Regions from separate parts of the Homo sapiens genome. Here region 2 is linked to region 1. Evidence: fine-mapped expression QTL. Tissue or cell type: whole blood. Region 1 holds a variant in brackets; the other region holds the start of a gene. All regions are shown on one strand. Distances are from middle to middle.

What was found. PIP is the estimated chance that this variant, and not a neighbour inherited with it, causes the effect.
Region 2: UBXN4 starts here. The variant in region 1 is fine-mapped to the expression of UBXN4 in whole blood (INTERVAL, PIP 0.96).

The regions. Positions count from the first base shown.
Region 1 is chr2:135,763,985-135,772,498 of GRCh38, forward strand. UBXN4 (UBX domain protein 4) reads left to right here. Exons shown (of 13, transcript NM_014607.4): 7 at 5,785-5,839; 8 at 6,587-6,751; 9 at 8,436-8,514. Among named protein-coding and RNA genes, the nearest start is that of UBXN4, 26 kb to the left of the region's middle. The variant C/A (reference allele first, on the strand shown) is at 4,302.
Region 2 is chr2:135,739,169-135,744,168 of GRCh38, forward strand. It overlaps UBXN4 (UBX domain protein 4), which reads left to right and starts at 2,687. Exons shown (of 13, transcript NM_014607.4): 1 at 2,687-2,843. The coding sequence starts at 2,762. LOC107985946 (a long non-coding RNA gene) reads right to left here and starts at 3,476. Exons shown (of 1, transcript NR_163478.1): 1 at 1,661-3,476. RefSeq lists enhancers at 2,305-2,434, 2,765-2,824, 3,153-3,928 and a silencer at 3,225-3,274.

The DNA of each region.
Region 1 (8,514 bases):
GGCATGGCACGCATCTGTAGTCCCAGCTACTCAGGAGGTTGAGGCAGGAAAATTGCTTGAACCCGGGATGCAGAGGTTGCAGTGAGCCAAGGTCATGCCACTACACTCCAGCCTGGGTGACAGAGTGCTACTCCGTCTCAAAATAAATAAAATAAAATAAAATAAAAAATAAAGCAGGATGGATTAGCAAATGTAAGATTCTTACTTTCCTCTCAGGCTACAGTTGAAACTGAGATCTATTTCCAAAGACCATGTTTTTGGAAAACTAATTACTGTAGTTGACTTTAAGTCTTAGGCTTTTTTCTCATCTAGCTTCAAAGAAAACTAATTTTGTTAAGGGAAAGGGTGACTAAATCAAATTGACATTAGTGAGAAATTCATCCTATCTTGTACATAAGAACATAGTCCTTCAATCTTGAGCTGCATTTTGTCAAGTAAACATAATTAAAAAAAAACGGATTGGTGATTTGAAATTGTGAGATCTAAGTTTTTATTTTTAATATTAATGGATATACAATGGTTATTTATTTATTTATGAGGCAGAGTCTTGCCCTGTTGCCCAGGCTGGAGTGCAGTGGCATGATCTTGGCTCACTGTAGCCTCTGACTCCCGGGTTCCAGCGATTCTCCTGCCTCAGCCTCCCAAGTAGCTGGGATTACAGGCATGCACCACCACACCCGGCTAATTTTTAAAATATTTTTAGTAGCAACAGGGTTTCGCCATGTTGGCTGGGCTGGTCTTGAACTTCTGACTTCAGGTCATCTGCTCACCTTGGCCTCCCAAAGTGCTGGGATTACAGGTGTGAGCCACAGCACCTCGCCTGTGATGGTTTTTTGTTTGTTTGTTTTTGAGATGAAGTCTGGCTCTGTTGCCAGGCTGGAGTGCAGTGACATGATCTCGGCTCACTGCAACCTCCTCCACCCAGTTCAAGTGGTCCTCGTACCTCAGCTTCCTGAGTATCTGGGATTACAGGTATGCGCCACCATGACTGGCTAATTTTTGTATTTTTAGTAGAGACAGGGGTTTGCCATGTTGGCCAGGCTGGTCTCGAACTCCTGGCCTCAAATAATCCACCCGCCTTGGCTTCTTCAAGTGCTGAGATTACAGGCTTGAGCCACCACGTCTGGCCAGGATATACAATGTTTCACTAAAGTAACAGATGTGAAATAGGAATCTTTTAGCGAATCTTTAGTTAAAATGCATTATTTTGTTTATTTCATTATGTTTTTTTTTTTTTTCCCTGAGATGGAGTTTTGCTCTTGTCGCCCAAGCTGGGGTGCAATGGCACAATCTCGGCTCACTGCAACCTCCACCTCCCAGATTCAAGCGATTCTCCTGCCTCAGCCTCCCGAGTAGCTGGGATTACAGGTGCCCACCACCACACCCGGCTAATTTTTATATTTTTAGTAGAGGCAGGGGTTTCACCATGTTGGTCAAGCTGGTCTCGAACTCCTGACCTCAGGTGATCTGCCCGCCTCGGCCTCCCAAAGTGCTGGAATTACGGGCATGAGCCACCACACCCAGCCATGTCATTATGTTTAAAATGGGCAGAATTATCTGGCAAAGATAATATATACTACCATGAATTCTAGTCTTTTTATTTGAATAAGTTTCAAACCTCAACGTTGAAAAAATAGTGTAATGGCCATCTTTTAATTTTTTTCTTTTTTTTTTTCTTCTGATTCATTTGAAAGTTGCAGACATAATTTCACTTCATGCCTAGATACCTCAGCATGCAGCTCCTAGGAAGACATTGGCTGAGGGTCTGTGGGCTTTGAGCAGGGACTCCATCCTAGGCCAGGATCTGGGGATCTGTGCTCACAGACCCATGTCCTGCCCCCTTCTGGCACCCAAGCAGGCATAGTGACCATTAAGAAGTAGATGCCAGCCCGGCACAGTGGCTCATGCCTGTAATCCCAGCACTTTGGGAGGCCGAGGTAGGTGGATCAACTGAGGTCAGGAGTTCGAGACCAGCCTGAGCAACATGGTGAAACCCTGTCTCTACTAAAAATACAAAAATTACCCGGACGTAGTGGTGGGTACCTGTAATCTCAGCTATTTGGGAGGCTGAGGCAGGAAAATTGCTTGAACCCAGGACGTAGAGATTGCAGTGAGCTGAGATTATGCCATTGCACTCCAGCGTGGGCAATAAGAGAGAAAAGCCATCTCAAAAAAAAAAAAAAGTCGAAGCCCAAATGTAGAAGTTATGGAACAGTCAATTTGTTATTAAATTAGATGCAGTGTAGCTTTTCACCCAAATTAAAACAAACTTGCGTTTGTATTTCTCAGAAGAAAATTCTACAGATGGTCTATAAATACGTTTATACACCATTTTCAGATGGTGTATATTTTCAGATACAAGCACGATACCATTATCATACTCAAGAAATTCTCAATTGATACAGTAAGATTATCTAATTTGTCCGTATTCAGATTTCCCAGTTGCTCCAATAATGGCCCTTTTAACTTTTCTTCCCTTGATTCAAGATCCAGTCAAGGATTGTTCATTGCATTTAGTTTAGGCTCTGAATCCAAGACACTTCTTGTTTGCATTTTTCATGATTTAGACATTTTGAAGAGTCTAGGTTAGTTGTTTCTACAATGTCCTTTGATCTGCTCCCTGTTCTATCATTAGATTCAGGTTAAACTCTGATAAGAACATTACCAAGATAATGTTTTGTCCTTTCCATTACTCATATCAGGAGACAAGTAATATGAGATGTATGCATTATTGGAGCTGTAAAGTTTAATTATTTGGTTAGGATGTTGTCTGTTGGGTACCCTTTTCATTTTCTAATATATAAGTTGTCTATGGGGTGATTCAAATGGTAAATATCCTACTGCTTAAAAACTTCACCCGGTGGTTTCAGCATTCATTGATTTTTGCTGTAATCACCTATTTCATTGATGTTTAAAAATTGTGGTATTTTTCTCATTCTGTTTTTTTCTACATTTATCAGCTAGCATTCTTCTGTAGAGAAATGCTTTGATCTACCCCCTCTACTTTCCATCTGCCCACCCCCGCCCCCTTTTTCCAGTAAACTACTTATTGGACACCAGCACCCAGATGAAGGAATAGAAAATTACCAGTGCTAGTCTGGCATGGTGGCTCACGCCTGTAATCCCAGCACTTTGGGAGGCCAAGGTGGGCGGGTCACCTGAGGTCAGGAGTTCAAGACCAGCCTTGCCAACACAGTGCAACCTTGTCTCTATTAAAAATACAAAAATTAGCTGGGCGTGGGGGTGTGCATCTGTAGTCCCAGCCACTGAGGAGCCTGAGGTAGAAGAATCACTTGAACCCGGGAGGCAGAGGTTGCAGTGAGCCGAGATCGTGCCACTGCACTCCAGCCTGGGCGACAAAGTGAGACCTTGTCTCGGAAAAAAAAAATGAAAGAAAGAAAATTAACAGTGCCTAATAAGCTTTCCTAATGCCCCTTCCCAATTATGGATTCCCTCCATAAGATGATCACTATCCTGAATCGAACACTGTAGGTTAGTTGTCTGTTTGTGAACTTTGTGATGGAATCATGCAACGTGTATTTTTGTGTTTGATCTCCTTTGTTCAGCTTTGTATTTTGAGGCTTATCCGTGTTGCATGTCACAGTAATTGGTGCACTCTCATTGCTTTATAGTATTCTGTTTGACTCTACCTTGATTTATTAATCCATTCTACTGTTGGTGGACATTAGGATTGTTTTCAGTTTGGGGCTATTTGAATAGAACTGCTATGAGGAATATTCTTGTATATGTCTTGGTGAACATGTGTACACATTTCTTTTGGGCATATATATGAAGAAGCGGGAATTTCTGGGTTATACATAGTGATCAAACAGCTTTCCAAAGTGGTTAGGCCAATTTACAGTTCCCCTTAGCAGTTAAGACATGTCACAGATGCTTTTTTTTCTCTCATGTGTTACTATCCATTTCTCTATTCTTTTTGGTGCACAAATTGCCCCAAATTTGACTTGTTGGAATCCCCTTCATATTGGGTCTTCTGGCTTTTTGACAGTACTCACTCCCTTGATTGCTGGCACACATTGTTCAGTTTGGTATACACCAAACACTTTTAGAGAAAATACCATTTTCATTTAAAAAAATGAAATATAATTCACTACCATGAAATTGAAAGTGTACAATTCAGTGAGTTTTAGTATATTCACAAGGTTGTGCATCCACTACCACTGTCTAATTTCAGAATCATTATTTTATTTTTTAAATTTTTTTATTTTTTTGAGATGGAGTCTCACTTTGTTTCCCAGGCTGGAGTGCAGTTTCACCATCTCGGCTCACTGCAACCTCCG[C/A]CCCCCAGGTTCAAGCGATTCTCCTGGCTCAGCCTCCTGAGTAGCTGGGATTACAGGCGCATGCCACCACACCTGGCTAATTTTTGTATTTTTAGTGGAAACAGGGTTTCACCATGTTGGTCAGGCTGGTCTCAAACTCCTGACCTCGTGATCTGCCCACCTCGGCCTCCCAAAGTGGTGGGATTACAGGCATGAGCCACCGTGCCTGGCCGATTTTATTAGTTTTTGAGATGGGGTTTCATTACGTTGCATTACACTACCATGCTCAGCTGATTTTATATTATTATTTTTTTTTCCTGAGGCGGAGTCTCACTCTCGCCCAGGCTGGAGTACGGTGACATGATCTCGGCTCACTGCAACTTCCGCCTCCCAGGTTCAAGCGATTCTCCTGTCTCAGCCTCCCGAGTAGCTGGGTTTACAGGCGCTCACCACCACGCCCAGATGTTTTTCTATTTTTAGTAGAGACAGCGTTTCGCCGTGTTGGCCAGGCTAGTCTCAAACTCCTGACCTCAATTGATCCGCCTGCCTCGGCCTCCCAAAGTGCTGGGATTGATTACAGGTTTGAGCCACCGTGCCCAGCCTGATTTTTTATTTTTTGTAAAGATGGGGTCTCAAGTTGTTACCCAGACTGGTTTCGAACTCCAGGGCTTAGGCTATCCTCCTGCCTCAGCCTCCTGCAGTGCTGAGATTACACATGTGAGCCACCACACCCAGCCTCCATTTGTTTGTTTATTTCAGACAGGGTCTCCCTTTGTCACCCAGGCTGGAATGCAGTAACGCGAACGTGACTCGCTGCAGCCTCGACCTCCCGGCTCAAGCAATTCTGTTACCTTAGCCCCTAAAGTAGCTGGAACTACAGGCACACGCCACCATGCCTGGCTAATTTTTGTGTTTTCTGTAGAGACAGAGTTTTGCCATGTTGCTCAAGCTGGTCTTTAGCTCAAGAGATCCACCAACCTCAGCCCTCCCAAAGTGCTGGGATTACAGGCATGAGCCACTGTGCCCAGCCTCCATTCATTTTTAACTGATGAACTTCTTACAGTTGAGAATCAAGTTGGTGTTAGTAATTTGGTATTAATAATTTGCTGGCCTTAAGTTTTTATTTTTACAGGTTTTTTTTTTTTTTACCATAGTGCTGTTTAGTTTTATATAAGGAGTAGAGCATTTATAAGTCACTGATTTATGTATTTGTTTGAAAATGTATTTGTAGATTTTAAAGTCAATATCAGGTAAATCAGAAAAAAAGGGAAACTAATCATAAGTGGGAAGTGAGGCATTTAGAATGAAGCTAGGCTTCTGATGGGCTCTCGTTGACTCCAGGATTTCTGTAGGGGCCTGAAGCCAGGCAGATAAATAGTTGCTTGCTTTTTGTTTGTTTGTTTCTTTATTTCTCCAATTGTTTTAGCTAAATCCATCTCCTAAATGTGTTTTATATTAATATGATGTGTCTCAATTAGTGGTGGTTTTTTTTTTTTTAATACAGACTAACAAAAAAACTTGAAGAAAGGAGAGAAGAGAAAAGAAAAGAGGAAGAACAGGTAAAGTTCATGCAGTTAGCATTGTTTTGTCCTCTCATTAACTGAGGTTGTGATTGATTATTCTATTCAGTGTGGCAGGCCTAGGGTGACTTCATAGTTTTAGTTCAGTGTTGCAGCACTATGAAGATAATTCCTGTTTTCTCTAGTAGAGTCATAGTATATACATTTTTTGTGTTCTTTTCGTAAATTACTATGAATAAATTAGACCATGCTTTTTCCCTCTGCAATGATTTTTTTTTACACTAAGAATAAAGGGACTTGAGCTAAAATGTTTGGCTTGAGGTTGAACAAAGTTTTAGTTCATTTTTGTGAAAAAATGTATAGACATTTTGCTGAATTTTTCCTCTCCTGTTAAGCATTCTAGCACATGGTTCATTTTTCTCACCATGTATACCTAACTGTGTAGCATGTCTTTGGAGTTCTAATATAGGAAGGTTACCATTTCATTCAAGCCAAATACGTGACTGCCATGTTGTCCCTGAAGGGTAATATATTTACCCTCATGACTAAAGACCTGTAATTATGCTTGCCTTCAAATTACACTGACTACATTATTATCTTAACAGACCATTGGCAATGATTTATAGATTGATAGACATTTGACCATTAACCATGCCATTAATAAACTCGTCTAGACTTACATTTTATGAAGTTTTATTCTTTTAACTGCAGTTTTCGTTGCATTCAAAATAATATCTGGGGCAGATTATCAAGTTTTTGGATCATAAAACTTTTTCTTTAATTCAGAGAGAAATTAAGAAGGAAATTGAGAGGAGAAAAACTGGAAAAGAAATGTTGGATTATAAAAGAAAACAAGAAGAAGAATTAACAAAAAGAATGCTGGAGGAAAGAAACAGAGAGAAAGCAGAAGATAGGGCAGCTCGAGAACGTATAAAACAGCAGATTGCATTGGTAAGTCTTAAGTTTCCAGACATTCGTGAAACTGTTTTTCTGTGCACAGTAGCTTTAGATTACTACCAGACTGTGCACACAAAAATAGATTTTAGTGACTCATAGACTACCAATCCTGAGCTTCCTTTTATTAGAAATTGTAAATGAATTAAAATAGTTAAGATTAAAATTGAGTTGATTTTTTTGAAGTGATTTTTATTCATATTTTGTTAATTTATGACTTTTATCAGCATTCAAAAAGCAGCTTTTAAAGATTCCCTAGAAAATAAGCTAAGTACTAGTACCTACTACTAGTACTAAGTACCTACTAGTAGTAACTACTAGTACTAAGTACCTAGTAGTTCTTCTGTAGTCACAGGCACACTTTTTTGCAACATTGAAAGGATTTAGGCACATCATAAAGCTTAGTTTGCAACAATTGCTTTTATAATTCATCAGCTGCAATACATATTAAAACCATCCCGCCAGGTGTGGCTCACGCCTGTAATCCCAGCACTTTGGGAGGCTAAGGAGGGCGGATCACCTCAGGTCGGGAGTTCAAGACTTGCCTGGCCGACATGGTGAAACGCCATCTCTACTAAAAATACAAAAATTAATCGGGTGTGGTGGTGGGCGCCTATAATCCTGCTACTTGGGAGGCTGAGGCAGGAGAATCACTTGAACCTAGGAGGTGGAAGTTGCAGTAGGCTGACATGGTGCCATTGCACTCCAGCCTGGGCGACAAAAAGCGAAACTCCATCTCAAAAAAAAGAAAGAAAGAAAAAAAGCCATCCCTACCTTAATATTTTTGTTCATTTGGTCAGTCAACAAGTATTTGTTGAGCATTTATTATTTATTTATTTTTGAGATGGAGTTTTAGTCTTGTTGCTCAGGCTAGAGTGCAGTGGCGCAATCTTGGCTCACTGCAACTTCCACCTCCCGAGTTCAAGCAATTCTCCTGTCCCAGGCTGCCAAGTAGCTGAGGTTACAGGTGCATGCCAACATGCCCAGCTAATTTTTGTATTTTTAGTAGAGACGGGATTTCATCACATTGGTCAGGCTGGTCTGGAACTCCTGACCTCAGGTGATCCACCCACCTCGGCCTCCCAAAGTGCTGGGACTACAGGCGTGAGCCACCACACCCAGGCTTGTTGAGCATTTATTATGTACCAGACCTTGTTCCAGGCTTTGGAGATACAGTAGTGAGCAAATTCATTTCCTTGTTTCCTTAATAATAATTCTGGTCTCCGACAGTTGATAAAACTAAAAAATAACAGTTCCAGAATGTTAAAGTTCACATATGGTGTTAGACAATTTCAGGCAGCAAAGGCACAGTGGCTCACAACTGTAATCCCAGAATTTTGGGAGGCTGAGGTGGGAGGATTGCTTGAAGCCAGGAGTATAAGATCAGCCTGGGCAACAAAGTGAGACCCCACCTCTACAAGAAAAGAAAAAAAATTAGCTGGGCATGGTGGCACACACCTGTAGTCCCAGCTACTCTGGAAGCTGAGGTGGGAGGATTGCTTGAGCCCAGGTGTTCAGAGGCTGCAGTGAGCTATGATTGTGCCACTGCACTCCAGCCTTGATGACACAGCAAGACCCTGTCTCTTAATAAAAAAAAAAAATTCCATGCATATTTGTTTGGAATTGTGTGAATTAACCATTCTGGCAGTAAAGGTAATTGGTATTTAATGATGTTTTAAAGGACCGTGCAGAGAGAGCTGCTCGTTTTGCAAAGACAAAGGAAGAAGTAGAGGCTGCCAAAGCTGCTGCCTTGCTAGCAA
Region 2 (5,000 bases), 27 kb before region 1:
ATGAACAACCTCCCCACCATCCTTCACTTCTTTCAGTGTTGCCTATCTCAGTACCATCTTCTTTACGATTTTGCAAGGCAGATACCCCAAATCTCTCTCTCTCTCTTTTTTTTTAGAGACAGGGTCTTGCTCTGTCGCCCAAGCTGGAGTGCAGTGGTGCAGTCATGGCTCGGTGCAGTCATGGCTCACTGCAGCCTCAAACTCCTGGGTTCAAGTGATCCTCCTGCCTTGGCCTCCCAAAGTGCTTGGATTACAGGCATGAGCTAACACACCTGGCCACAAAATCCCTTCTTGAGTCCTTCTTCCTCAACCTCCACATGTAATCAACAAAATATATTGGGTCTGTCTCCAGAATATCAAAAGCATCCACTTCACTATCTCCCTTATGTTAATACATGAATAAGTACCTCTTACCTGGTCTATTCACATTCAGCCATTCCACTTCAAATCCAATCTATTCAATTGCTATCATACAATTTAAAAATGGAAGTCTTATATGTATCTGTTTATTTATTTATTTTTTGAGATATAGTCTTGCTCTTTCGCCCAGGCTGGTGGGCAGTGGTGCCATCTTGGCTCACTACAACCTCCACCTCCTAGGTTCAAGCGATTCTCCTGCCTCAGCCTCCTGAGTAGCTGGGATTACAGGCATGTGCAATCACGCCCAGCTAATTTTTGTATTTTTAGTAGAGATGGGGTTTCACCACGTTGGTCAGGCTGGTCTTGAACTGCTGACCTCATGATCTGCCCGCCTCGGCCTCCCAAAGTGCTGGGATTACAGGCATGAGCCATTGTGCCTGGCCAACTCTTCTGTTTAAAATTTTTCAATGGCTCCCTGTAATCCTTAGAAAAATGTCTTAAAATTTTTAACATGATTTTCAAGACTCTGTATCATCTGATCCTTGCCTAGCTTTCCAGCCTCACTTGTACCACACTCCTCTTTCTATGTTATAGCCACACTGGGCATTTTTTAGTTCTGCAAGTGCACTGTGTTTGCTTGCTTCAGAGCCTCATGTGGAATAGCCTTCTCCTTCACCTACCTAGAGTTCCCCGACACGTCATTTCCTCATGAAGGCCCTTTCTGACTCCACTAGCCCATGTTCGGTCCCATCCTCATACACTTCTGTAGCACTCTGAATTACCCTTCTGTGACATTTATCATCACTCATAATTACTTATTCAATGTCTGTCTTCCTGACTAGACTGTACAGTCACAAAGACAGGGCCTTCTTCTGACTGCCTCACCTCCTTATCAGTGCCAGGCACAATGCCTAGCTCATAAAAGATGAGTGATAAACACTTGACAAATGAATATAAAACTATGAAGGATTCTTATTTAATTCTAAAATTAGAGATAATTAAAGACATAGCTCTATTGGAATAATTTCTAGATTGATCAAATTTCCAGAAGTCCATTAAAGTTGATGTTAAAGGTCAATTCTAATTTTTCTGTAGGATTGTTGTCCTATAGAAGCAACTGTCCCTAATCAGCATTATGTCTCAGTTTATAATAACACTATATACGAGAGGCCTGATTGGGAAAAAAAGTACAAAAATCGGAGTGCAAATAATTAGCTATTTTTAGGGAAAATATCTGTAGGAAAGGTGGTATATTCAGATGTATCACTTCCTTTATCTTGCAAAGATTGTCAGATAGATGTACTGCTGGAGGATAAATTTAATTGATGTAGAATTTAACATAATAGTATATGCAACTTTAAATAAACCATGCAAGCCTTTAGCTAATAGTTATTACAGACCATGTGATTTCATGAAAGTATTAAATATGGATCAGTTTTCATTTAATGGCAGCCAATCACAAAGCGCCACATCTTGATTATAGGACATTCTCCCAGAAAATTGGAAAATAAATCACTATCTAGTCTCTTTTGTATTACCATGGAAAGTAGCTGGAAAAGAAATAATCTATTCTCTGCTTTGTGTTACTTTAAAAAGTAGCTGTGGCAATAGCCTAACGCGTTTTGAAGTTTTGAAATGATCTCTATCCAGTGTCTAGGAAATTGCTGAAGGCCTGCGTTCTACCAATTCCTCCGCTTAGGCACATGGACTACAGGTTATTAAAGAAGGTGACTTGCGGTTTTTATCCCGTTTTTCTGCAAGGTTGGGCTACGTTCAGAAGAAATCAAAGCCTCGGAGTTAATCCCGACAAAGCCCATTTAGTTCCATGCGAGGACTATTTCCTCCACACTGAGAGTCTCAACGAGGCCGAGAATAGCATATGCCAGTTGGAGTGACACTTATTTCTCCCTCTCCCCTTTATAGAATGTGTAGTGGCCCTCACTACTGCCCCCTTTAGCTGTGCCTCAGAACCCACAGTTACATGCTCCACAATATGGAGGCGAATAAGCCTAAGTGGACTACAATTCCCATCATGCCTCACTGCAGGCGCCGCCGACGTGTCTTAGCGGTTAGTCATCCCTCTTACCGCTTTCCTCCACTTCCTGGACTGCGCGACCGGAGGCCTAGCGGGCGCGCGCCCGCACCATCGACTCGCCAACGAGAGAAGGTCCTGGGGCACGGACACCGACGGGTTGCGACTGTGACGTGAGGTGTTCTCGCGCGCGCTAGCGCGCGTCTCCGGGTGCCGCTGACGGGCGTGCGCGCTTGTGCGGAGCCGGAGGTGGGGGCCGAACCAGCCAAGGTTGCGGGGGCCGCAGAGCCGGACGAAGACGGAGGGCGGAGCCGGCTTCGGGACTGCGGAGACTACACACCGAGCGAGCGCCTGGGCCCGAAGGGAGCGATGCTGTGGTTCCAGGGCGCCATTCCGGCCGCCATCGCGACGGCCAAAAGGAGCGGCGCGGTCTTCGTGGTGTTCGTGGCAGGTGAAGGAGGCAGGGGTTCGAGAGGCGGCCGGGACACCCCTCCGGCCTACCTTCATCCTCTTGTATACCTCAGCCGCCGGCCCGCCCTCCCCGAGACGCGGGCTCCTGTCGGCTCGCACAATTGCCACTACTACCCCGCGCCCCAGGGACGGCTGCGACTCCGCCGCCAGATCCCCCAGAGGGGCCATGCAGACCCTCAGCGCCCTGCTCCTTCAGGCCCCGGGCGCCCCCAGCCTTTCCTCAGTGTCTGCGAGGCCCGGGCTGCCGGCCCGTGGCTGTTCAGCGCCTCCCCGGTTCGTTTGAGATACAGTGGGCCTGGCCCCACCGCTGCGTCTCCCGGCAGCCGGGCCGGAGGCACCGTCTGGCCCTGGTCTCCAAAGCGCCCCGAGGCCCGCCGAAATCTCCCCGCTCGGGGCGACGGACGCGGCCAGCAGGCCCCAGCCGCCCAGCCCCGCTCGTCGCCCCGAGCCTCTCCCCTGCGCAGCCAGACCCCCGCGACCCTCTCCCTGACGTCCCTCTCTGTCACCAAGGACCCTCTTTGTGCTGCTTGAACGCCCGTTTCGTTACTGCTGTTTAGATGGAGGTAGGAACGGGCCATTAGGCAAGCAGTTGGGTTGTAATTAGTTGTGGACTGTCGGGAAGAAAGCTGTGTCATCGATAAGCAACAAAGAGAAACCACCTGATGTTCACGGTTACTGGTGTTAGTACGTTCCTGAAACGTAAACTTTTGAGCTGAATAGAGGTTTAATTTTTCTTTATGGCAGTCTTGGTAGGGGATCTAGTGTGAAATAATGTAAGTTTAAAAAAAATCCATTAGTTTCAAAGAAAATAGACGTTCAGTCCTTGGTTTCTTCCCTTTGTTGTCTTCTTAGGCTAAAATCTACACGACTTTGAGAACGTTTATTAACTCATATATTCTCTGTTGCTCTAGGCTATTTTGCTCCATATTCTCCTGTTTTATTACTGAAATCTTGTAGATTTACAGTGAACTCCCTGCCTCTACGGTTCTGCTCATACTCATTACATGGACCAAATCAATGTTTGTGGCTGTTGTTAATTTGAGGTGTATTTCTTCAACTATTTGTGTTTAATAACGGTTTATTCATAATTAACTCGTCTTTTAATAGCTCTATAACTTTATGCACTGCAGTGAAGAACGAATTACTGAAATGTGAATGTCATTTAGCATTAAATTTGGAATTTATAATTGTTTTGTTACGCCAAGTTTTTAGCTCAATGCTGTTTATTAGAAGAGCTTGAATAGTTTAGATTCTGTGATGCTGTCTGGGGGTTATATTATACTTTACATAAATTAATTCTGTAATCCCGTAAGGAAAAAAATGGATTGAAAATGAAAGGAAAAGTAAATGACACTATGCTTATTGTGTACATTAGTAGGTTTTTGACATTTTAAATTGTTTTTCTCCTAATATCTCAGTTGATCCTTGCAGTAAATAGAACAGGTTTAATTATCCCCATTTTATAGATGAGGCACTTAGGTCAGCAGTCATAAAGTGACTTGCACTAGGGCCACAAAAAGGATTTACATGTCTTAACAGTCAAATTTTTTAGTAGCTTCAAAAAAACTGGCTTTTTTGTTTCTTAAGGAAAAAACTGAACAATTTGTAAATTGGTGATTTAAATTGGTATAGAAATCAGAAATTTGGATTATGGTAGTCATGTTTTTGAACAAATGTCCAAACATTCCTAGAAGGCACTCTTGAGGTAAATCAGTTAATTTAAAAAAAGAAACGAGAGATTTTTATTAACAAATATTAATATTTGGAAACTCTAGTACAAATTATTGGAATAGTTAAATAAAGTTATAGGTCTTGCCTTTCGGGGTTTTGTGTATATATATATACTTTCTTCAATTAAGTTTTTACTGATGAGCATGTATTACATGTATTTAGAATATAATGACTCTTGAATGTTTGCAGGAAGACTGTTAGCAATCTCACAAAGGAGTCTCTGTCTGTCCCTTGACCTGTTCCAAAATCCAGCTAGCTTTTTTAGAGCTTTAGCCAGTTAATCCCCAAGACTAAGTAGGATTAGTGTCACTCTAGGAGTATGTAGATACTGGACTCATGAAACCAAAACACTTACAGATTGCTTAGAGCTTTCTTCATAACTCTGAAGTCAGAACTTGTGATTTTC